Linked DNA regions of Homo sapiens. The protein of the gene in region 7 purifies or fractionates together with the protein of the main gene of each other region. This does not show direct contact. Each region holds a gene or a part of one and is shown on either strand. Other genes may lie near its edges.

The links.
Region 1: the proteins of PRSS16 (region 7) and FLG2 purify together in Homo sapiens (affinity purification with mass spectrometry; one large-scale study listed by BioGRID and IntAct). This does not show direct contact.
Region 2: the proteins of PRSS16 (region 7) and IL37 purify together in Homo sapiens (affinity purification with mass spectrometry; one large-scale study listed by BioGRID and IntAct). This does not show direct contact.
Region 3: the proteins of PRSS16 (region 7) and PLBD1 purify together in Homo sapiens (affinity purification with mass spectrometry; one large-scale study listed by BioGRID and IntAct). This does not show direct contact.
Region 4: the proteins of PRSS16 (region 7) and ACP3 purify together in Homo sapiens (affinity purification with mass spectrometry; one large-scale study listed by BioGRID and IntAct). This does not show direct contact.
Region 5: the proteins of PRSS16 (region 7) and GM2A purify together in Homo sapiens (affinity purification with mass spectrometry; one large-scale study listed by BioGRID and IntAct). This does not show direct contact.
Region 6: the proteins of PRSS16 (region 7) and FLG purify together in Homo sapiens (affinity purification with mass spectrometry; one large-scale study listed by BioGRID and IntAct). This does not show direct contact.

What each region holds. Positions count from the first base shown.
Region 1 is NC_000001.11:152,350,007-152,353,506, forward strand, and holds part of FLG2 (filaggrin-2), read right to left. Parts: coding exon 604-3,500; 3' UTR 1-603. UniProt on the Homo sapiens protein: Essential for normal cell-cell adhesion in the cornified cell layers. Important for proper integrity and mechanical strength of the stratum corneum of the epidermis.
Region 2 is NC_000002.12:112,916,774-112,919,382, reverse strand, and holds the end of IL37 (interleukin-37), read right to left. Parts: intron 2,255-2,609; coding exon 2,135-2,254; intron 1,749-2,134; coding exon 1,606-1,748; intron 823-1,605; coding exon 574-822; 3' UTR 501-573; downstream 1-500. UniProt on the Homo sapiens protein: Immune regulatory cytokine that acts as a suppressor of innate inflammatory and immune responses involved in curbing excessive inflammation.
Region 3 is NC_000012.12:14,503,161-14,506,022, reverse strand, and holds the end of PLBD1 (phospholipase B-like 1 precursor), read left to right. Parts: intron 1-2,068; coding exon 2,069-2,251; 3' UTR 2,252-2,362; downstream 2,363-2,862. UniProt on the Homo sapiens protein: In view of the small size of the putative binding pocket, it has been proposed that it may act as an amidase or a peptidase.
Region 4 is NC_000003.12:132,355,407-132,359,341, forward strand, and holds the end of ACP3 (prostatic acid phosphatase isoform PAP precursor), read left to right. Parts: intron 1-1,279; coding exon 1,280-1,472; 3' UTR 1,473-3,435; downstream 3,436-3,935. UniProt on the Homo sapiens protein: A non-specific tyrosine phosphatase that dephosphorylates a diverse number of substrates under acidic conditions (pH 4-6) including alkyl, aryl, and acyl orthophosphate monoesters and phosphorylated proteins.
Region 5 is NC_000005.10:151,256,185-151,259,684, forward strand, and holds part of GM2A (ganglioside GM2 activator isoform 1 precursor), read left to right. Parts: intron 1-3,500.
Region 6 is NC_000001.11:152,318,740-152,322,239, forward strand, and holds part of FLG (filaggrin), read right to left. Parts: intron 1-3,500.
Region 7 is NC_000006.12:27,253,911-27,257,120, reverse strand, and holds the end of PRSS16 (thymus-specific serine protease), read right to left. Parts: intron 2,429-3,210; coding exon 2,249-2,428; intron 2,136-2,248; coding exon 1,990-2,135; intron 1,875-1,989; coding exon 1,806-1,874; 3' UTR 501-1,805; downstream 1-500. UniProt on the Homo sapiens protein: Protease that may play a role in T-cell development.

The DNA.
Region 1 (3,500 bases), on a different chromosome or scaffold from region 7:
TGATTGGCCATGGCTGTATACTTGTCTTTCATTGGTACTGAATCCAGACTGACCCTAGGCATCTCTTGATGGCCCATGACTTAATACCTATCTGGCAAAACCTGTGCTGGATCTTACCTGCCCATGAAAAGTTGTATCTCCGAAATGTTGCTGGCTAGATCCATGTATACCTATTGTATTGAACTCTAACTTCCCATGCCTAGATCCTAATTGCTCATGAGTGTCTTTCTCCCAATCTTCTGAATGCTTTTTGTTATCAGTATGGGATTCCTGTTTTCTGATTGAACTAGATTTTGAATGGCCATGAACTGATATGGATTGTCCATGGCCAAATCCAAGGTGGTCATTTGACTGGCTATGTGTACATCCCTCCCTTCTGGCTGTGTTATATCCAGGTTGAACATAGGTGTTGTTTGACTGTTTATGAGTTACTATAGAATGTCCATGACTAGATTCCTGACTTCTTATAATAATAGGTCGAGACTGATACTGAGAATCAACTGAATGTTCATAACTTACCATTGACTGTTCATGATTTAAACTGTGTCTTCCTGTTCTTTTAGTTGCTTTGGATACTATAAGGTCAGAACTAGAAAATAACTGTCAATGTCTAGACAGTTGCTTGTTTGCAGTGCTGTCTGTTGACCATGAAAGGTGAGAATTACTGATGCTTTTTCTGCTGCCACCAGAAGGCCCATACCCAGTGTGCCCATAGTCATATTCTGCAGGTCCATAGCTGCCATGTTTCCAAACCTGACTTGATCCATGCCTTTGCCTTTCACTACTATGTGACTGAAAATGACTTGCTCTACTAGATCTGGAACCTGTCTGTGTGGATTGTCCATAACCAGAATGGCCATGTCTAGTGGTATCTCCTGTCTGTCCATGAGTAGTTTCCAGTCTCCCATGAACTGTGGATCCTGGCTGTCTTTGTTGAGATCCAGCTTGGCCCTGAATGTGTCCTGAATGTGTGTGTGAGCCCCATGAGTGCACTTCACTGTCACTGGACTCACTGTGGCCAGATCCCCTTCTTCCAGTTGTCCTGGACCCTCTCTGTGTGGATTGTCCATAACCATAGTGGGCATGTCTAGTGGTATCTCCTGTCTGTCCATGAGTAGTTCCCTGTCTCCCATGACCTGAGGATCCTGACTGTCCATGTCGAGATCCGGCTTGGCTGTGAGTGTGTCCTGAATGTGTGGGTGAGGCCTCTGAGTGCACTTCACTATCACTGGACTCACTGTGACTAGATCTTTGTCTTCCAGTTGTCCTGGAACCTGTCTGTGTGGACTGTCCATGACCAGACTGGCCATGTCTAGTGGTATCTCCTGTCTGTCCATGTATAGTTCCCTGTCTCCCGTGAATGGCAGATCCTGACTCTCCATGTTGAGATCTGGCTTGGCCATAAGTGTGTCCTGAATGTGTGTGTGAGACCCCTGAGTGCACTTCACTGTCACTGGACTCACTGTGGCCAGATCCCCTTCTTCCAGCTGTCCTTGACCCTCTCTGTGTGGACTGTCCATGACCAGAGTGAGCATGTCTAGTGGTATCTCCTGTCTGTCCATGAGTAGTTCCGTGTCTCTCATGAACTGAGGATCCTGACTCTCCATGTTGAGATCCGGCTTGGCCATGAGCGTGTCCTGAATGTGTGTGTGAGACCCCTGAGTGCCCTTCACTGTCACTGTACTCACTGTGGCCAGATGCCCTTCTTCCAGTTGTCCTGGACCCTCTCTGTGTGGACTGTCCATGACCAGAGTGGCCATGTCTAGTGGTATCTGCTGTTTGTCCATGAGTAGTTCCGTGTCTCTCATGAACTGAGGATCCTGACTCTGGATAGTGAGATCCAGCTTGACCGTGAGTGTGTCCTGAATGTGTGTGTGAGACCCCTGAGGGCCCTTCACTGTCACTGTACTCACTGTGGCCAGATCCCCTTCTTCCAGTTGTCCTGGACCCTGTCTGTATGGTTTGTCCATGACTAGGGTGGCCATGTTCAGTGGTATCTCCTGTCTGTCCATGAGTAGTTTGGTGTCTCTTGTGAACTGTGGATTCTGACTCTCCATGTTGAGACCTGGCTTGGCTGTGTGTGTGTCCTGAATGTGTATGTGAGCCCCCTGAGTGCACTTCACTGTCACTGGACTCACTGTGGCCAGATCTCCTTCTTCCAGTTGTACTGGATCCTGACTGTGTGGACTGTCCATGACCAGATTGAGAATGTCCACTGGTATCTCCTGTCTGTCCATGAGTAGTTCCATGTCTCTCGTCAACTATGGATTCTGACTCTCCATGTTGAGATCCAGCCTGGCCGTGAGTGTGTCCTCGTGAGTGTGGTCTTTGTGAGAACCCTGAGTGCCCTTCACTGTCACTGTACTCACTGTGGCCAGATGACCTTCTTCCAGTGGTCCTGGACCCTGTCTGTGTGGACTGTCCATGACCAGAGTGGGCATGTCTGGTGGTATCGCCTGTCTGTCCATGTATAGTTCCATGTCTCTCATGAACTATGGATTCTGACTCTCCATGTTGAGATCTGGCTTGGCCATGAGTGTGTCCTGAATGTGTATGTGAGACTCCTGAGTACCCTTCACTGTCACTGTACTCACTGTGGCCAGATCCCCTTCTTCCAGTAGTCCTGGACCCTGTCTGTGTGGTTAATCCATGATGATAGTGGGCATGTCTAGTGGTATCTCCTGTCTGTCCATGAGTAGTTCCATGTCTCTCAGGAACTATGGATTCTGACTGTCCATGTTGAGATCCAGCTTGACCATGAGTGTGTCCTGTATGTGTGTGTGAGACCCCTGAGTGCACTTCACTGTCACTGGACTCACTGTGGCTAGATCTCTGTCTTCCAGTTGTCCTGGACCCTCTCTGTGTGGACTGTCCATGACCAGAGTGGGAATGTCCAGTGGTATCTCCTATCTGTCCATGAGTAGTTCCGTGTCTCTCATGAACTGTGAATTCTGGCTCTTCATGTTGAGATCCGGCTTGGCCGTAAGTGTGTTCTCGTGAGTGTGGTCTGTGTGAGCCCCCTGAGTGCACTTCACTGTCAGTGGACTCACTGTGGCTAGTTCTCTGTCTTCCAGTTGTCCTGGACCCTGTCTGTGTGGTTTGTTCATGACCAGAGTAGGAATGTCTAGTGGTATCTCCTGTCTGTCCATGAGTAATTCTGTGTCTGTCATGAATTATGGATTCTGACTCTCCATGTTGAGATCCACTTTGGCCGTGAGTGTGTCCTGAATGTGTGTGCGAGCCCCCTGAGTGCACTTCACTGTCACTGGACTCACTGTGGCCAGATCCCCTTCTTCCAGTTGTACTGGACCCTCTCTGTGTGGATTTTCCATGATGATAGTGGGCATGTCTAGTGGTATCTCCTGTCTGTCCATGAGTAGTTCCGTGTCTCCCATGAACTGTGGATCCTGACTCTCCATGTTGAGATCCGGCTTGGCCATGAGTTTGTTCTTGTGATTGTGGTCTGTGTGAGCCCCCTGAGTGCACTTCACTGTCACTGG
Region 2 (2,609 bases), on a different chromosome or scaffold from region 7:
TCCCAGACAGTACCTGGCTCCTCCCTCACCTGGTCTCCTGGCTGTCATCTGACCCAGATTCCTTGTCTCTGTGCCTTTCCCACAGGTCAAGTCACCCTGCTCCTTATCTGGGACCTAACTACCCCTTTTCCACTATCACTTGGCTGGATTGTGACTTGCTGTTACATTTCTTTCTTGCACACTGTACCCTAGACACAGACTCAGCCACTTCTGCCCCAGGATCAATGCCCTCAGAATCTACCAAACCCCAGTAGGAAAGACTAATTCTAGAGCACAGCATGCACCCAGCTGCTCCTTCCCACTGCAAGTATTGCACTCAGACTGGCCACATCATAGCATATGACACACACATGCATGTCTGATGGTTCAGGGTAGCAGTACACAAGCAGAAGCCGGTCTCTTTCCAACCCAGAACTTTGTAATTAAACAAGCTTCTTGCTATATCCTAAAAACACAAATCCTTAAAGCATGAATGAGAAATGAAACCCAATGACAGAAAGTTTAGTGAGCAGGTTTGGTGTTTTTATACAATTAGTTCAAATTAGCGAGGAAGGCGTTCAATGGGGCAGTTTCCTAATCGCTGACCTCACTGGGGCTCATTTCAGCTTTGCAAACTGGTTGAAATGAAAATTCAATGTGTTTCCTGTTCTCAAATTTATCTGTCACCCCAACAGGCTCATTACAATTGCAGGAGGTGCAGATGAACCATCCGGGGTGAGCCGCCGACTCCAGCATGTTCCAGGAGCCCACCTGAGCCCTATAAAAGATGAAGGGCCGGCGTGCTGATTCCTTTTGGGCAGCCAGCTTCATCAGTTTCTCCTTCTGTGAGGTAAAAGGGATTAATTAGATAGCACAGGCTTTGAGAGGGAGGAAAACACAGCACATGTGCTCATCCTCCAGGCCTTTACACAGGAGAGGAGGAAAAGAGAGAAGGCAGATGGTCCTTGGGAAAGATGACGTGTCAGCCTTGGTACTGGTATTTAAGGGATGATAAGCAATCCTGCCCTCTTTTCCAGGCCTTCTTGTCCCCCAGATTAAAAATAAACTGAGAGAGAGAGAGAGAGAGAGACGTAAGAGTCAGATGGATACCAAAATCTCAGCTCTATAGTTTTTAAAATTAGAGAATATGGCTTAGATCTGTATCTAATTCAGCTTCCTAAGATTTCTCCCCTCAAGTGAAAGGTGCTCCATCCAGGACTAAATTTGCAGGGCAGACACACTGCCCTCCGAGTGCTCCCTCACACCCTCCTACCCTACAGCAGCACGCCAGGGTCCTGGCCCAATTGTGTTGCTTGCCACATGGAGGGCCACAGCAGGAGGGGACCGCCACCCGCCCAGGGCCAGGACCAGTGAGCCCAGGAGAGGAGAACAGGTGCTCAGCTCCTTGCTGTCTCCCCGCTGTGAGGAGTCTCTCCTCCTTCCCTAGAAGGGGCAAGGAACCAGAGAAGAAGTTATGGGGCTCTTCTGCCTGGTGCTTCCAGAAAGGTGGATGTCCCTGTTATATTGGCCAAGATAAGAATTTGCAGGAAAGCGAGAGGCATTGAGGATCTTGGCCTTTTACTTTGGGGTAGCCAAAGGCCCAGGAAACTGAGCTAGAACTCTCACCTTCAGCTGAAGGGATGGATGACTTTGTCCTTTATCCTTGTCACAGTAGAGACAAAACTCCCCTTTAGAGACCCCCAGGAGAATCGGACTTCCTTTCTCCGCAGAGGCTGAGCTCAAGGATGAGGCTAATGCAAAGAAGATCTCTGGAAAAAGACAGTCAGAACATGTGTGGGTTCTGAGAGCAGGGAAAGGTCTCTCCTGTCTGCTGGGGTTTCAGGCCTGATGCACAGTCCCTCTCCCTTGACTCTGTGGTCCACTTCTCCCTCCATCACACTGGTTTAAGCCTCCTCTTCTTCCAGTCTAAGTGTCTGCCTCCTTCTTTTTCTCCAGCCCTTCCAGAAAGACTACTTTCAGATCTGGTCATTGCTAGAGACCCTTCATCTGATGCCCTAGTCCCTGGGGCCTCTCCTCCTCGCTTCCACCACCTGCTGGAGATGGGGCATGGTATAGCATGGAGTTGAGCCCACCTAGCAGGAGGCCTTACCCCTGCTAGGTGGAGGCAGAAAACACAGCCAAAACTGAGAGTCACCTGGGCGTATGTAGTTTTTATCTGGAACTGCTATGAGATTCCCAGAGTCCAGGACCAGTACTTTGTGATCCTGGTCATGAATGCTGAATTTCTTCGGGTTTAAGTTCTTCACCTTTGGACCTAGATCAATATCACCAGATATCAACACTTCACATTGAAAATGGAAGACTCAGCCCTTTCTTCCCCACGTCCAAGGGCCCCAGCCCTAGCTCTCCACCCTGCCTGTGGGCTCAGACATCACAGCCACTGAATATTTCTTCCACTCCCAGGCTTTCTATCTTGCTGGGACAAGCAATTAAGCTTTCTGTGCAAGCAAATGGGTTCCAGATTTGGACAGATAGATTCAAATCCCAGCTCTGCTGTAGGACAGAGGACAAGTTACTAAGTCTCTCCAAACCTCAATGTCCTCATCTGTGAAATGAAAGTAATAGCAGCACCTACTTGAGAGAGGAGTTATGAGAACTAAAATGCTTAC
Region 3 (2,862 bases), on a different chromosome or scaffold from region 7:
TGGTGGTAGGTCCTATTATCTAACTTCAAGTCCCTGCTCTGCCATTTAGTAGTAAATCACATAATTCCGTCATGTTTCTGTTTCCTCATCTGTAAAATGGATATAACAGTACTTACCTCATATGTTGTTCTGAAGAATAAGGCTTTAATCTCTGTAAAATGTTTACAACAGCACTTAGTGAGTTATTTGTAAATGTATACAACCATAATGATGTTATTGTTGTCTTATGTTTTACCAGACTGGCCCAAAGTCCAAAGAACATATTATTCAAGCAGTGCGATTCCATGTTAAACATGAGTCAAATTTAGCTGAAGGAGCAAGTTTGGACAAGATGCCTAAAGCACAGCAGTTTTTCACAATGTTAGAATTGATAAGTGCTGTAATGTATCTGAAAATATAAGTAATAAGTAGGTTTGCAGTGGTGTGCTAAAGCCAGCTTATAGACATGCAGGAACCAATTGTTAGTTGACGTGTTGATGGCTTCAAACCAGTCAGTGAAAGTATTTACATTATGGAAATCAGGAACTTTTTTCCTCACAAAGAAAGATTGTTGTTAAAAATTTACCTGCTCACCACTGGATTTGGGACGTCTGAGGGTATGAGGCATTTGGTTGGTGGAATCATGCTACTACATCCTTTTGCACTCTTGGCTTGGGTGTGTGTCTTTTCATTTCATCAGCTGTCCTAAATTCTGGAAGAAACCTGTCAGGGTAAAGTGTGTATTCTGTCTTTGGCTCAAAAAATTATAGGAATGCTGACCCCAGTTGCACATGATTCTCTATCAGCCTAATACCTAAACAGGAAATGCTTTAAAGTATCCTAAGTTCCAGCTCAACCTTCTTTTTAGCTATGTGATGAAGGCAAAGCTTTAGCCGTAATGACTCTCAATGTTAACATTAAAAAAAAAAAAAAAAAAGGTAGACGTAGAGAAGCTGGCACAGATGAAACCCCAATGAATGTTTTTGTATTCCTTTTTTAAAATGGCATTTGCAAACATTCAGTCAATGTGTGAAGTTTGTATCTATCACAGAATACACAAAGAAAATCACCTCTGCTGCCTTGCCTGGGAGAACTCAAGCCAAGCTTCCCTCTACCAAATCTCACTTCTGGAGACAGAGGCCTGCAATTGTTCTTATCAGAAAGTTTCTGTTGAAGGATATTCTTTAAAAATGTAATTTATCTCTTTAGAGTCATTTTGAATATGGGGAAAAGAAGAAGAGATTCTCTTTCCCCTCTAAGATTAAGACCCACTGCTAGCCAGTTGTTAGGTGTTTTTGAGAACCACGGCCCTCAATTTTTGACAGTGAGCTCTATCTACTTTCAGACTCTTGTTACCACCCTGATTAATAACAACTTTTTCTAAGAACTTCATCTATTCTAGGCATTACTTTGAGCATTGCTTGCATTAATCCTCATGCCAACTCTATGAAGTAGGGTTATCAGCCCATTTTACAAAGGAGAACACTGATTCATAGAGGGGTTAAGTGATTTTTAAATAAGCTTTGGAGCTAGAATTCTGAATATGAGTAATCTGACTTCATATCTCACTTTTGGCTACATTGTTCATTTCACACACTTCTAGTCAACTGACATTTAAGCCAAATGTATACAGAAGACTGTATCATATAAAGACAATGTGAAAAATGGCAAGAAAATTTTGTTTTAAAGAAGGCGGCCTGGCGCGGTGGCTCATGCCTGTAATCCCAGCACTTTGGGAGGCTGAGGCGGGCGGATCACCTGAGATCAGGAGTTCGAGACCAGTTTGGCCAACAAGGCAAAACCCCATCTCTACTAAAAATATAAAAATTACCTGGGTGTGGTGGCCCATCCACGTAATCCTAGCTACTTGGGAGGCTGAGGCAGGAGAATTGCTTGAACCTGGGAGGCAGAGGTTGCAATGAGCTGAGATTGTGCCACTGTACTCCAGTCTGGGCAACAAGAGCGAAACTCCGACTCAAAAAAAAAGCTAATATTGTGACTTTGGTAGTGGGAGAGTGGGGAAGGCCATGGATTTAATTTTTTGCTGAACGATGATTTTCTAAAATGTCCTCCTCCTCCCTCTTTCCAGGTGGCAGATATCTACCTAGCATCTCAGTACACATCCTATGCCATAAGTGGTCCCACAGTACAAGGTGGCCTCCCTGTTTTTCGCTGGGACCGTTTCAACAAAACTCTACATCAGGGCATGCCAGAGGTCTACAACTTTGATTTTATTACCATGAAACCAATTTTGAAACTTGATATAAAATGAAGGAGGGAGATGACGGACTAGAAGACTGTAAATAAGATACCAAAGGCACTATTTTAGCTATGTTTTTCCCATCAGAATTATGCAATAAAATATATTAATTTGTCACTTTCATTTCCCACTGACTTTGTTGTTTTTACAGTAAGCACTCACTATAAGGTAGAGCACTGTAGAAGAAATGTTACATATATATATAAATAACACTAAGCTTCGGCATACATGCTAATACACAAGAGGGTATGGAAGAAACAGCTCCTTCATTCACCAGAATTCATGTTCTCCTTTCACGCCTGCTCACACAGACCACATCTCCCAGTGTCCCTCAGATAGTTGTGCCACATGACAATTCTAGCCATTGGAACCTGAGACGAGTGCCACTTCCAGGCCTCGCCCATAAGAATCTGTACTCCTCCTATGCTCTTTCCCCTTTCCCTGGATGAATATGCCTAATGACAAAACCCTAGGGGATGCTGGAGCTTCGTTTTCAAAGGAACCTCTAGTAGTAGTTGGTGATTGTAGTTAGTGATTTTTCTGGTCATTAACAGGCATAAGTTGAGTCTTTTTGTGATGTAGGTTAGGCATACAATACAGTAAAGCTTACTGTTGCCTCCTAT
Region 4 (3,935 bases), on a different chromosome or scaffold from region 7:
TTCCAAGATATAAGTACCCATTCATAATACATATTAGGGAGGTTTTTGTAAGTTTTATAGACATCTTATTTTATTTTATCTTATTTTATTTTATTTTATTTTATTTTTATTTTATTTTATTTTATTTTTGAGATGGAGTCTCGCTCTGTTGCCCAGGCTAGAGTGTAGTGGCGTGATCTCGGCTAACTGCAACCTCCACCTCCCAGGTTCAAGTGATTCTCCCGCCCCAGCCTCCCAAATAGCTGGGACTATAGGCATGTGCCACCACACCCAGCTAATTTTTGTATTTTTAGTAGAGACGGGGTTTCACCGTGTTAGCCAGGATGGTCTCGATCTCCTGACCTCGTGATCCACCCGCCTCGACCTCCCAAAGTGCTGGGATTACAGGCGTGAGCCACTGCGCCCAGCCTTATAGACATAAGTGAATATTTGCTGTTACTATGTTTATATGGCTTTTTAAAGTGATGTTTTAAAAGGCTTGTTTATAATGACAACCAAAAGTAGCCATTGTAAGGTTACACCAAAAGAAGGATCTCTAAATCCTTCTTGAGTTCCCCTCCTGACTCCTTGATTAGCAAATGGCTTCCATAAGCAACTCACGCTGGTTTAACTCAGGTTAGTTTACACCATTGGACCTTCCCAAATAGTACATTGTTTTTTTGAGATAAAGCATTGAGAGAGCTCTCCTTAACGTGACACAATGGAAGGACTGGAACACATACCCACATCTTTGTTCTGAGGGATAATTTTCTGATAAAGTCTTGCTGTATATTCAAGCACATATGTTATATATTATTCAGTTCCATGTTTATAGCCTAGTTAAGGAGAGGGGAGATACATTCAGAAAGAGGACTGAAAGAAATACTCAAGTAGGAAAACAGAAAAAGAAAAAAAGGAGCAAATGAGAAGCCTAAAAAGAAGGGAGGAGGAGAAGGAAAACCCAACACCCCCACCTGCCTCCCACTTCTTATCCAAAGGCTCAAAGTCCCACCCAGCTCCCTGCAACCATCACTTCTCACCACCTCCTCTGATTTAGCATCCTGGTGCCTACCTCCTATGTCCCTGTTCATCTAACAAACCAGCCCTCCCATTTCCACCCTGCAAATCTCTCCCGCCTGCCCCAGTCTCCCCATTTACACACCTAAATTGGCTAAAATCTCCCCATAAGTTTTTCCATTAGTCCCTCAACTGGCATGTAATAGTCCAAGTGGAAAGAAATTCAGTGGCAGTTCAACAACACAGAACTAACAGAGCTCTCTCCTCTGCCTTTGTCTGCCAGGGAGTACTTTGTGGAGATGTACTATCGGAATGAGACGCAGCACGAGCCGTATCCCCTCATGCTACCTGGCTGCAGCCCCAGCTGTCCTCTGGAGAGGTTTGCTGAGCTGGTTGGCCCTGTGATCCCTCAAGACTGGTCCACGGAGTGTATGACCACAAACAGCCATCAAGGTACTGAAGACAGTACAGATTAGTGTGCACAGAGATCTCTGTAGAAGGAGTAGCTGCCCTTTCTCAGGGCAGATGATGCTTTGAGAACATACTTTGGCCATTACCCCCAGCTTTGAGGAAAATGGGCTTTGGATGATTATTTTATGTTTTAGGGACCCCCAACCTCAGGCAATTCCTACCTCTTCACCTGACCCTGCCCCCACTTGCCATAAAACTTAGCTAAGTTTTGTTTTGTTTTTCAGCGTTAATGTAAAGGGGCAGCAGTGCCAAAATATAATCAGAGATAAAGCTTAGGTCAAAGTTCATAGAGTTCCCATGAACTATATGACTGGCCACACAGGATCTTTTGTATTTAAGGATTCTGAGATTTTGCTTGAGCAGGATTAGATAAGGCTGTTCTTTAAATGTCTGAAATGGAACAGATTTCAAAAAAAAACCCCACAATCTAGGATGGGAACAAGGAAGGAAAGATGTGAATAGGCTGATGGGCAAAAAACCAATTTACCCATCAGTTCCAGCCTTCTCTCAAGGAGAGGCAAAGAAAGGAGATACAGTGGAGACATCTGGAAAGTTTTCTCCACTGGAAAACTGCTACTATCTGTTTTTATATTTCTGTTAAAATATATGAGGCTACAGAACTAAAAATTAAAACCTCTTTGTGTCCCTTGGTCCTGGAACATTTATGTTCCTTTTAAAGAAACAAAAATCAAACTTTACAGAAAGATTTGATGTATGTAATACATATAGCAGCTCTTGAAGTATATATATCATAGCAAATAAGTCATCTGATGAGAACAAGCTATTTGGGCACAACACATCAGGAAAGAGAGCACCACGTGATGGAGTTTCTCTAGAAGCTCCAGTGATAAGAGATGTTGACTCTAAAGTTGATTTAAGGCCAGGCATGGTGGTTTACGCCTATAATCCCAGCATTTTGGGAGTCCGAGGTGGGCAGATCACTTGAGCTCAGGAGGTCAAGATCAGCCTGGGCAACATGGTGAAACCTGGTCTCTACATAAAATACAAAAACTTAGATGGGCATGGTGGTGTGTGCCTATAGTCCCACTACTTGTGGGGCTAAGGCAGGAGGATCACTTGAGCCCCGGAGGTCGAGGCTACAGTGAGCCAAGAGTGCACTACTGTACTCCAGCCAGGGCAAGAGAGCGAGACCCTGTCTCAATAAATAAATAAATAAATAAATAAATAAATAAATAAATAAATAAAAACAAAGTTGATTAAGAAAGGAAGTATAGGCCAGGCACAGTGGCTCACACCTGTAATCCTTGCATTTTGGAAGGCTGAGGCAGGAGGATCACTTTAGGCCTGGTGTGTTCAAGACCAGCCTGGTCAACATAGTGAGACACTGTCTCTACCAAAAAAAGGAAGGAAGGGACACATATCAAACTGAAACAAAATTAGAAATGTAATTATGTTCTAAGTGCCTCCAAGTTCAAAACTTATTGGAATGTTGAGAGTGTGGTTACGAAATACGTTAGGAGGACAAAAGGAATGTGTAAGTCTTTAATGCCGATATCTTCAGAAAACCTAAGCAAACTTACAGGTCCTGCTGAAACTGCCCACTCTGCAAGAAGAAATCATGATATAGCTTTGCCATGTGGCAGATCTACATGTCTAGAGAACACTGTGCTCTATTACCATTATGGATAAAGATGAGATGGTTTCTAGAGATGGTTTCTACTGGCTGCCAGAATCTAGAGCAAAGCCATCCCCGCTCCTGGTTGGTCACAGAATGACTGACAAAGACATCGATTGATATGCTTCTTTGTGTTATTTCCCTCCCAAGTAAATGTTTGTCCTTGGGTCCATTTTCTATGCTTGTAACTGTCTTCTAGCAGTGAGCCAAATGTAAAATAGTGAATAAAGTCATTATTAGGAAGTTCAAAAGCATTGCTTTTATAATGAACTTAGAAAAACGTATGTGTGTGTGTTTAATTAGAATAAAATTCCTCTAGGCAGATTTCAGGAGCTCCCTTTGTGTTTGGGGTTTTTGTTTTAGTATAACAAGATGGAAAATATTAATATAAAGTAAAATGATTTGACTGGCTTAAATGAACATTTTACATTGAAAATATAGTTTGGACTTTACCACTTCAGATAAAGGTGAAGCTGTGGATGGCTCTGCCTCATCTATTTAAGATGGAATTTGCTAAGGAAACACCCTCAGGAAGTGCACAATATACTAGGGAAGTAAAGAGATACATACTGTACAACATGGAAAAACCAGGGCTATGTCTTATGACTACACAGATTACTGTGGGAACAAGAGTTATCCAGATTTGGAGTAGGGGAAGTAAGGAAGGTCAGGAAAGGCTTTCTGCAGAAGGTAGCAACTGTACCACGTAAAATCAGTTTGAGGCCAGGCGAGGTGGCTCAGGCCTGTAATCCCAGCACTTTGGGAGGCCAAGGTGGGCGGATCACAAGGTCAGGAGATTGAGACCATCCTGGCTAACACGGTGAAACCCCAT
Region 5 (3,500 bases), on a different chromosome or scaffold from region 7:
GGTGCTTAATAGACTCTATAGTGCTGTATAGTGGCTGTCATTTGTTGTACCCATACTATGTGCTATGTACTGGGCTATGTGCTTTTTTCCTAAAAAAAAATTTGGAATAATTTTAGGTTTATAGAATAGTTGCAGCAGGGCGTGGTGGTTCACCCCTATAATCCAGCACTGTGGGAGACCAAGGCAGGCAAATCACTTGAGGCCAGGAGTTTGAGACCAACCTGAACCTGGCCAACATGGTGAAACCCTGTCCATACTAAAAATACAAAAATTAGCCAGGCATGGTGGCGTACACCTGTAGTCCCAGCTACTTGGGAGGCTGAGGCAGGAGAAATCACTTGAACCTAGGAGGCAGAGGTTGCAGTGAGCTGAGATCACGCTGCTGCACTCCAGCCTGGATGACAGAGTGAGACTCTGTCTCAAGAAAAAAAAAAAAAAAAGAAAAGTTACAGAGATAATATAGAGTTTCTATATACTCCTGACTCAGTTTTCCCTGTTAGCATCTTATATGTACATATCTCCAACACTAAGAAACCAACATTAGTACATTACTGTTAACTGAATTCTAGACTTTATTTGGATTTCACCAGTTTTCCCATTAATGCCCTCTTTCTGAGCCAGGATCCAATCCAGGGTACTGCACTGCCATTGTTGTCATGACACATATAATTGTAGTCCCCCCTCTCCTCCAGCCTATGACAGCTTCTTAGTCTTTCCTTGTTTATTCATGAGCTTGGCAGTCTTGAGGAGTTGTGCCCTGTGCTTTCTGTATACAAACATCTTACCCTCACAATAGCCCTGTGAGAAGATATCATTATGTCCACATAATAAATGAGGAAATTTTGAACCCCTAGGGGGTTAACTTACCCATGGTCTTAGCTAGTAAGACTGGCTGAGCTGGGTTTTAACTCATACCTGTAGTACCCATATCTCTGCCTCCAGAGCTGTGCCTTTCCCCTCCGTCTTGTACCACCCCTTCCCACTAGTTGGCCTAGGCTGGAATGGCAGATATCTGGTGACCAGCCTGGCCTTGGTGGGCACTGCTAATCCATTACACCTCCCTTCCCTGATGAGCCTGGACTCAGCAGCAGAATTTGTCACTACAGAGACAGCTAGCCGGGCATTACCCTCAGGAAGCCATCTTGTTACGTCTCCCCCAGGGCCTGGGGAAAGAAGAGCTTAGGAGAGGGGAAGGGATTCTTCTCCGGTAGGTACTCTGGATACCCTACCCCCACCCCCAGCCCAGAATCAATTCTCTGTGTGGATCAGGCTGCCTTAGAATCTATGAAAACAGCCCCACCCAGAAAACTAGTCCTGCTCCTATGTTGCCCTCCAGCCTGACTCTTAATTCCAGGCAATCTTTCCCTTGACCACTTTCAGTCTGTTCACAACCACAAATCACAGTGTAGTACTGTCCTTCAGTGGGGTTCCACTGCCCCTATAGTAAATGCAACCTCCCGATTATAGCTTGTGGGGTCCTGCATTAAATGACCCTGCTACCCCTCCAACCTCATCTGGGTCCCTCATCTACTACATTTAGCCCATGGCCTTCTCCCAGTGCCTGGAGCAGCCAAGCTTCTTTGTGCCTCGGGGCCTTTGCCTGAGTTCCCTCGGCCTGCACTTACATGTCTGACTCCGCATCCTGCAAGAGCCCGGCTTAAGTATCACTTCCCCACCACCCTATGTAAGTGAGTCCTTTGTTGCTGTCAGCATTACCTTCTGCTCTTTTCCTTTGTGGCACTCACAAATCATAGTGGGTGATATTTATTTGCATTAGACGGTAAGCTCCTCAAGGCAGGGCAGGAGCCAGGTCTGATTGTTTACCACTCTTGCCACAGCACTTAGCCCAGGGCCTATCATCATTGCTCCATAAATATTTGTGGAATGAATGTTGAAGGAAACATTTAGTGGCAACTATCCTGTCCTGCCTTTCTTAGTCATGACATGACCTTTCATTCCAAGGGGTAGGAACCCATTCCTAAAAGCTCAGGTAAAGGGGAAGTTTATTACAGAGCTGCAAGACATCCCATGGAGCTGCCGGCAGGAAGCGGAGGCTAGGACGCTAATGGCTCCTTTAGTGAGCCGGCTCCCGTGTTGTGCCTGGCATTGGGTTATGAGCTTTACATACACGCTCTCGCCCTTGCAACATCCTGGAGAGGAAGGTAGAAATGCCTCCAGTTAAAAGATGTGGAAATTTAGACTCCAAAGGGGAAACTGGCCTATAAAATCACATGGTAAGTGTGGCAGAGCTATGATTTCCACCCAGGGCTGTTTGGCTAAAGCTGTCATTCACCCATGTCTCTCCAAAGCCATGCCCTTCACTGCTACTCCATACTGCTTTTATAGATAGGGAAGTGGGACTTGATCTGTTCCCTTTTCCACAGACCAACAGAGCCCTTAGCCCTTAGCCCTAACTTCTGCTTGGTCATGGATCACAGATCTAGATGGTCTGGCCTCAACCCAAAACTTAGGATCCAGTGACAGCACAAAACCCCCATATCCCCAGCCTTTTATACCTTAATTCCAAAATTGGGCAGAGAGAATCTGTCAGCCTAGCTGGGGTTAGGTGATCCCTCTTGAAAGAGTCAGTGATGGGAGTGTTGAAGGTGGGCATCAGCTTGGGGGTGTGGGACTGGCAGGTTTTCTCTCTGAGACAGGGTGTGGATGGAGGGCATGCCAACAGTCTCTCATAGGTGGCCTCCAGGGGGCTGGGAGAGGTGAGAGTGGGTGGGCAGAGAGTCTTCACAGTGTGGGAGGTGTTCAAGATCATCAGACAGGGTCTGTTGGAGTGCGGAGTGGTGGTCACATGCAGTCACATGCAGATGTAGTGGTGGTGGAATCAGGAGACCTGGGGGATGTGGAGGAGGAACAGGAGCAGCTCAGCACAGGGGTGGTGAGTGATCCAAGTGGGCATGTGGCATGAGAAGAGGGATGGGAAGAAGACACTGGTTAGGACTGGGGAAGTCCACTGGGGATTATTCATCAGCAAGTGATCCACTGGGGATCTTTTCATGAGTGTCCTATTCCTTTCTGAGTTAATCACCTGCCCCTTGAGAGTGGGATTTCAGATGCTGTTAGATTTCCCATTGTGTTTTGTGTTTCCCATTGTTCCTGGCTCTGGGTTGGGCACGGGGTGTGACATGAACAAGGTCCTGGGTGTGGGCTGCAGAGGTGAATCCTCCAGGAGCTTGCCCTCTGCTGGGATTCCAAGGCTGGCTGGAGAGGAGTGGGCAGCAGGGAGGTGGGAAGTCAGAGAAGGTGCCCACCAAAGGCCAATTAGGTCAGTCTCCTGTTTGGAAGTTCCAGGTCTATCATATCCTGCCTTATAGTTTACAATACACTTTTGGGAGATTATGTCTTTTGAGTCTTTTAGTTTAGTCCTGCCTATAAAATGAGTAGGATAAGTGTTATCCCAGCTTCATAGGTATGGAGTCTCATAGATGAGGCTCAGGGACGGGGGTGCCTCACCCAAGGTCACTCTGCCAGGAGCTCATTTTTCC
Region 6 (3,500 bases), on a different chromosome or scaffold from region 7:
GGTTAGGCACTGTTTCATGCTTTGGAGATATAGTAGTGAACAAGATAGATGAGGTGCCTGCCTACTTTTGTGAAGACAATAAACAAACAATAAATTAATTCAACAATTAGATATTGATAAGTGATATGTACATAACTAAAATAAGAGTGCTATTATACAGAATATTTGGGGGTACTTTAAGGAAAGGAGGTTTTGTGGTAGAGGGGACATTTGAACTTAAAATGGAAAAATAAGAAGGAAGTAGCCTTGTTAATTAGAGAATTTTAGCACAAGGAACAGTGCAAAGATTCCAAGATGAAAATCAGCTTGTCATGTTAGAGATATAGAAAAAGACCAACTCAGTTAGAAAATTGTGGACAAAGCAGGAGTAATACAACATAAAGTCAGAGATACAGACGGGTCAGATAATGATCTTCTAAATAAGGTGACATTTGTGCATTTTATTTTAGGTGTGATGAGACTAGATGATATTTTTTGGTAAGAGAGTGATCTAATATGGTTTGATTTTTAAAGATTGCTTTGTGCAATTGTTTATTAGTTTCAGACTAACTCTGAATACAACTAGAAAATGTGTGTGTGTGTGTGTGTGTGTGTGTGTGTGTTTGAAGGTATCACAGAGCTATCAAGATTGTGACAATTTATTGGGGCTTACATTCAGATTTAGAGGGAAATATAGTATTTGGGGAATTAAAAGACAAAATTTTCTAAAACTGATGAAAGATATCAAGGTACAGGTTCAAAACGATATTATAAACTCCAAGCAGGAGATATAAAAGAAAACCAAAGCAAGACATATAATAATAAAACTGCTGAACATTTGAGGCAATGAGGAAATCCTAAGAGCAGACAGAGAAACACTTGTATTACCTTCAAAGGAGCGACAATAAGATTGATACTTGTCTTTTCAAAAGAAACAATGGAAGCTAAAAGACGATGAAATGTTATATTCATCTTTCTGAAGCAAAATAAGTTATATGTTAACAGTGAAAATATCCACCAAAAAGAAAACATGTAAAGATATTTTCAAGCAAAGAAAAACAGAGCTAATCACCAGAGACCTACTGTAAAGGAAATATTAAAGGATAATTCTAGTTGGAAGCACAGAGGAGCAAGAAAGAATAAGAACAATGGAAAGAGCATATGTGTGGAAAAATATAGCTAGATATTGATTGCATAAAATAATAATAGTAATCTTTCAGGATTTAAGATAAATAGAATTAAAATACATAACAATCCCAGATAAGGCAGTGAGAAAATGGAGTTAAGTATTGTAGGATACTTGTATTATTTGGGTAGGGGTTAAAGTATTTTTTTCTTAATAATATACCCTAACAAATCAAGGATGCATGCTATAATTTTTAGGGCAAGGATGCAGATAATAATAAAAGAGTGTATAATTAATAAGCTTTTGTATAAAGATAATTAACTGGTAAATATTAACTTAATCCAAAAAAGTCAAGAATAGAAAAAGAAATACAGAACAGGTGAGATAGTAGAAACCAAGTAGTAATATTGTAGAGATGTAAACCAAATAGTTCCATAATAACTCTGAATATAAATAGAGTAAATATGCTAATTAAGGGACAAGGCTGTCAGACTGGATTAAAAAAAACCAACTGTATTCTGCTTATAAGAGACACACATAAAATGTGATTAAAATGATTGTAAATGAAAGGGTGGAAGAAAGAGATACCATTCAAACACTAAAAGAAAGCTGTTATTATTATATTCATATCTGTCAAGCAGACTTTAAGGCAAAAAATATTGCTAGAAGGAAATTTTATAATAATAAAAGATCAATTCTCCAGGAAGCCTCAAAATACATAAATAAAAATCGACAGAAGTATAAGGAGGACCAGGCAATCTACAATCATAGTGGGGTATTTAAATACACTTCTCTCAGCAACTGATAGAAGAAGTAAAAAATATGTAAGAATGTAGAATATTTCTACAAAATTATTAATAAAACATCAACATACATTGAACACTACACCTAACAACTGCAGAATATCCATTCTTTTGAAATTGACCATATACTGGGCCATAAAGCAAGTTTCAATAAATTTTAAAGGGTTGAAATCATAGAGTTTGTTCTCTAACACAGTGGAATGAAGCAAGCATTAAATAATAGGAAGATAACTAGAAAAATCTTTAAGTGTTTGAAAATTAATGACTTCTAAATAATCAATGGGTCATTGAATAAATTACAATGCAAAATTAGAAAATATTTTGAACTAAATGAAAATGAGAAAAATATGAAATAGCATAACTTGTGGAATACATTAATTCCATGCCTAATAGATATTTATAGCCTATATATATATACACACACACATATATACATATATACACTCACATATATATGTATATAAACACATACATATATATATGAATGATATCTCTTTTTCCCATCCTTTCATTTTCAATCACTGTTATCATTTTTTATGTGTGAATCTTATAAGCAGCATACAGTTGTGTGTGTATATATATGTATATGAAAGACTGAAAAATTAATTACCTAAGCATATATTTCAAGAAGTTTTAAAAAGAACAAATTAAGCCCTAAGAAAGTATAATGAAGGAAATAATAAAGATAACTAAAATTAATAAAAGAGAAAGAAAATTTAGAGAACCAACAGTGCCAAGATTCAGCCTTTGAAAAATCTAATAAAACTGATAACCCCTGCAAGATTAATCAAGGAAAGAAGAGTAAGTACCAATATCAGGAAAGTAAAAGGGGACATTGCTATCGAGGTTTTAGACATTAGAAAGATGACAAGAGCATATTATAAAAAACATTATACCAGCTAATTTGAAAATTTAGATGACATAGAAGAAATGTCTAGAAAAACACTTGTTACCAAAACTGAACCAACAATAAATAGAAAACCTAAATAGTACTATGTTTATTAAAGAAATTGAATCTTAAATGCATTCATTTCCAGTGGGGGAGAAACTGCAGGTCAGATGGCTTTACTGAATTCTATTCAAAGTGAAAGAAAGAAATAACTATAACATCACATAGATTATTTCAGAGAAATGAAAAACAGGAAACACCCATTTTATTAATCCAAACTGGCCTCAGTACCATAACCTGACAACGATATAAGAATCAAAATTTTCAGGACAATTCCTTTCATATAGATGCAAAACTCTGAAAGAATATAATAGCAGACTGAATTCAGTAGTATATAAAAAGAATATATGTTATTCCTAACTACATTTTATTCCAAAATTCATTTTTGGATTAACATTTGAAAACCAACCAATTAAGTACTGAAATAGAATAATGGGGAAAATTATATGAACCTCTCAATAGATGAAAAATTGATAAAATCCAATATTAATTCTGATTAATAAATAAAAGATTATGTCTTTGAAAAATGTCATAGCAAAAATTATATTTAATGGTGAAATGAAAGCTTTCATCTCCAAGTTTGGGAATGAAACTAGTATGCCTGCATCATCCTATTGATATATACTATGTATAGTATCATCCT
Region 7 (3,210 bases):
GGCCTAGCCCAAGATAACTGGTATCCTCATAAAAGGGGAAATTTGGACACATGGATAGGCACATGCAGAAGGAAGGTGATGTGAAGGCACACAGGGAAAATGGCCATGTGACTGGAGTAATGCATCTACAGGCCAAGGAACACAGGAATGCTGGCAAACACCAGAAGCCAGAAGAAGCACAGAAGCATTTTCTATTTGTCTTTCTAATCTCCTTCTGTTTCTCTGAATATCTTCATTTCTATCTCTGTGTTTTTGTCTGTTTCTCTATTTATCTTTCTGTCCTTCAATCTGTGTTTTCGTTTCTGGCTCTCCGTCAGTGTCTTTGTCTCTCCTCTCTCTCTTGCTCTGCCCTGGCTATTTCCACTGCTCTATTTTTGACTCTCATTTTTGGTCAAGGAAGGATTAGAAGGCAAGGAAGGATTCTCCCCTAGAGCTGTGAGAAAGAGAATGGCTCTGCTGACACCTTGATTTCAAACTTCTAGACACAAAAACATATAATATATACTGCAAGTTTCCATTTATATAAAGATCAAGAACAGGCAGAACTAAAGTGTAGTGGAGATTGACTTTGGTATGACAGCATGAGGAGGTTGCCTCTTACCCACAAGGAAATATGAAACTGGATAAAACTCTAAAACTACCATCTCTGTGCATACAAAGACATACAAAAAGCTGAGAAGTATTTATTGCTGAAAATAATTGATCTTTAGGAAAGAACAGTGCAAATCTATGGCAGGTTCCTGTCACAGCTAACATAGCCTAAGCAGGCACCCTTGGGATTAGCCCTATCCTCCCAGGCCCTGGAAGAAGGAATCTCCACCAGAATCATGAATCCCTAGAGTTGGAAGCTGGAAGTACCAGGGAGTGATATTTGATTGTGGGAAAAGATGGTGAGTGAAGGGTGTGGAAGGAAGACTAAATAAGAGAGATAGAGAAGGAAAAGATTAAGTGACAGGAAGAGAAATAGAGACACAGAAGAAGAGCATCAGAGACAGAAATAGAGCCTCAGGGAGACAGAGAGATTGAGGACACAGCAGAGGAGAGACAGAAATAGAGCCTCAGGGAGACAGAGAGATTGAGGACACAGCAGAGGAGAGACAGAAATAGAGACAGAGACAGAGTGAGAAAGAAAGTGACTAGGAGACACACAGAGACCAAAAATGAGAGTCAGAAATAGAGCAGTGGAAATAGCCATGGCAGAGCAAGAGAGAGAGGAGAGAAAAAGACACTGACGGAGAGCCAGAAACAAAAACACAGATTGAAGGACAGAAAGATAAACAGAGAAATAGACAGAAACACAGAGATAGAAATGAAGATATTCAGAGAAACAGAAGGAGATTAGAAAGACAAATAGTGACAGGGGAAAGAGAGAGGAAGAGACTGAGGGAAAGGGGTACAGTGAGAGAAACTGAGAAGCAAGGACAGGTTCAGGATCTAAAGTCCAGAAAAAGAAACTTACAGCAAAGCCCCTAACCCAGGAGCTGGAGTGGCAGAATTTGAACCAGAATCTGATCAGCAGGGCGAGGGCACCAGCATAAGTCACATTTGTTTGACATTTAACATTCAAAATACCAATATTTACAATGAGAATAATCATCCACTTATATTTCCATAACTCTCTGCAATAAAGCACTTTAAGTTGGGAATAAGGATGTTTGCAGACACATGCCAATTACGTGCGGAACAGGTGCTGAATTCCAATTCCTGGGAGTTTCTTCTTTCAAAACAAGCTGCTTTCTTTTGTTCAGTGAACAAGTATGTCCAGGACTGAGGTGACCATGCAGGGAGTGGAAAGGGTATGAGATTCAGACTTCACCCTTAATCTGGCTCTCCTTTGCCAGCTTGAGCCAGGTCTGTAGCTGCTGGAAGATGTTCTGTGGGGAGGTGGGAAGAATTTGAAAGTCAGATTTCAGCACCAGCAGAAGGAGGGAACATGCAAGTGATTATTCAAATGAGAATGCAAATGATTCAGAGCCTTTTTTCTCTTACCTGGCGCCCTAGGCGGAGGCTGGGGGAGTCTGAGGGCCTCTCAGGTGCCATGTCCAAGCAGTGGGAGCCAGTGCGGATAAGAAGAGTTGATTCTGAGGATCCTAAAGCCTGTGTTACACTTAGCACATGCCAGGGGTCTGTGTCCCCTGGAAAGAAAGGATAGGATGGGGCTAGGTAGATGGGTGCTGGGAGAGGATGAGGCTATGTTGAGCTGGGGCTAGGTGGAGGCTTAGCAGCCAGGTTTTGATAGCATGCTCACCATTAACAAACAGCACTTTGTTAGCCCCAGGGGTCTGGCCACCGTAGTAGGAGTTCGTCTGAGCCACAGCCTGGGCTACTGACAAGGCTGAGAGCCCAAACACCTGCTCACATAGGTCTAGCTGGGAGGGCAGTGCTGGGAGCTGGGAGAAAGGACATCTGGGATTCTCACAGGTGACATCTGTGTAGGGAGATACCTGTAAGTGTGGGTATACAGGCAGCCCACCACTCTCCTTCAATAATCATTTTCAAAGCTTTCCTCAGTGATGACCAGAACATTTCTAATACTCCCTTCGAGGAGTTTACAGTCCTGGCAGACAGACTCACACAGTCCCCTGACAGTGATAGCCCACAGTGATCAGGGCTGTGATGGAAAAAGGCCACAAGGCAGGGATCCCAGAGGAAACATGATGGGCTCAGGGAAAGCATCCTGCAAAGGATAAGACCTTGAGAAATTAGTAGAACTGAGCCAAACAAAGATAGAGAAGGAAGGCATAGTAAATAGAAGAAATAGCACGTGCAAAGGTCTGGAATGCTCGGAGCTCAAATTGTATTATGTCTGCCCTGCTTAAAACCCATAGCTCACTGTGCTTTCAGGGTAAAGATAACTTCTGTAACATCAGATTAATTCATCCCTTCCCTCCCTATTTGTTGACCACCTACCAGGTGCTCAGATAAATGTTGTACAATGTTGGGCACATGGTGGCAACCAAGACAGCTCCAGGCTCTGCTGTCACAGGACTCAGTCCAGAGGGGAAGACAGGCAATAAAAAATGTATTATGACAGGCTGTGTAAAATGCTAAGGAGAACACAGAGCTATCGAAGTCGGAGGTGGCAAGGCTGACTTATCTTGAGGGATCATGGCTTCCTGAGGGAGGCCACCCTATTGAGACTTGAAGATGAATAATCCAAGCAAAGTGAACAGCATGTACAAAGTTCCTAAGATGTTAGGAAGACTAATG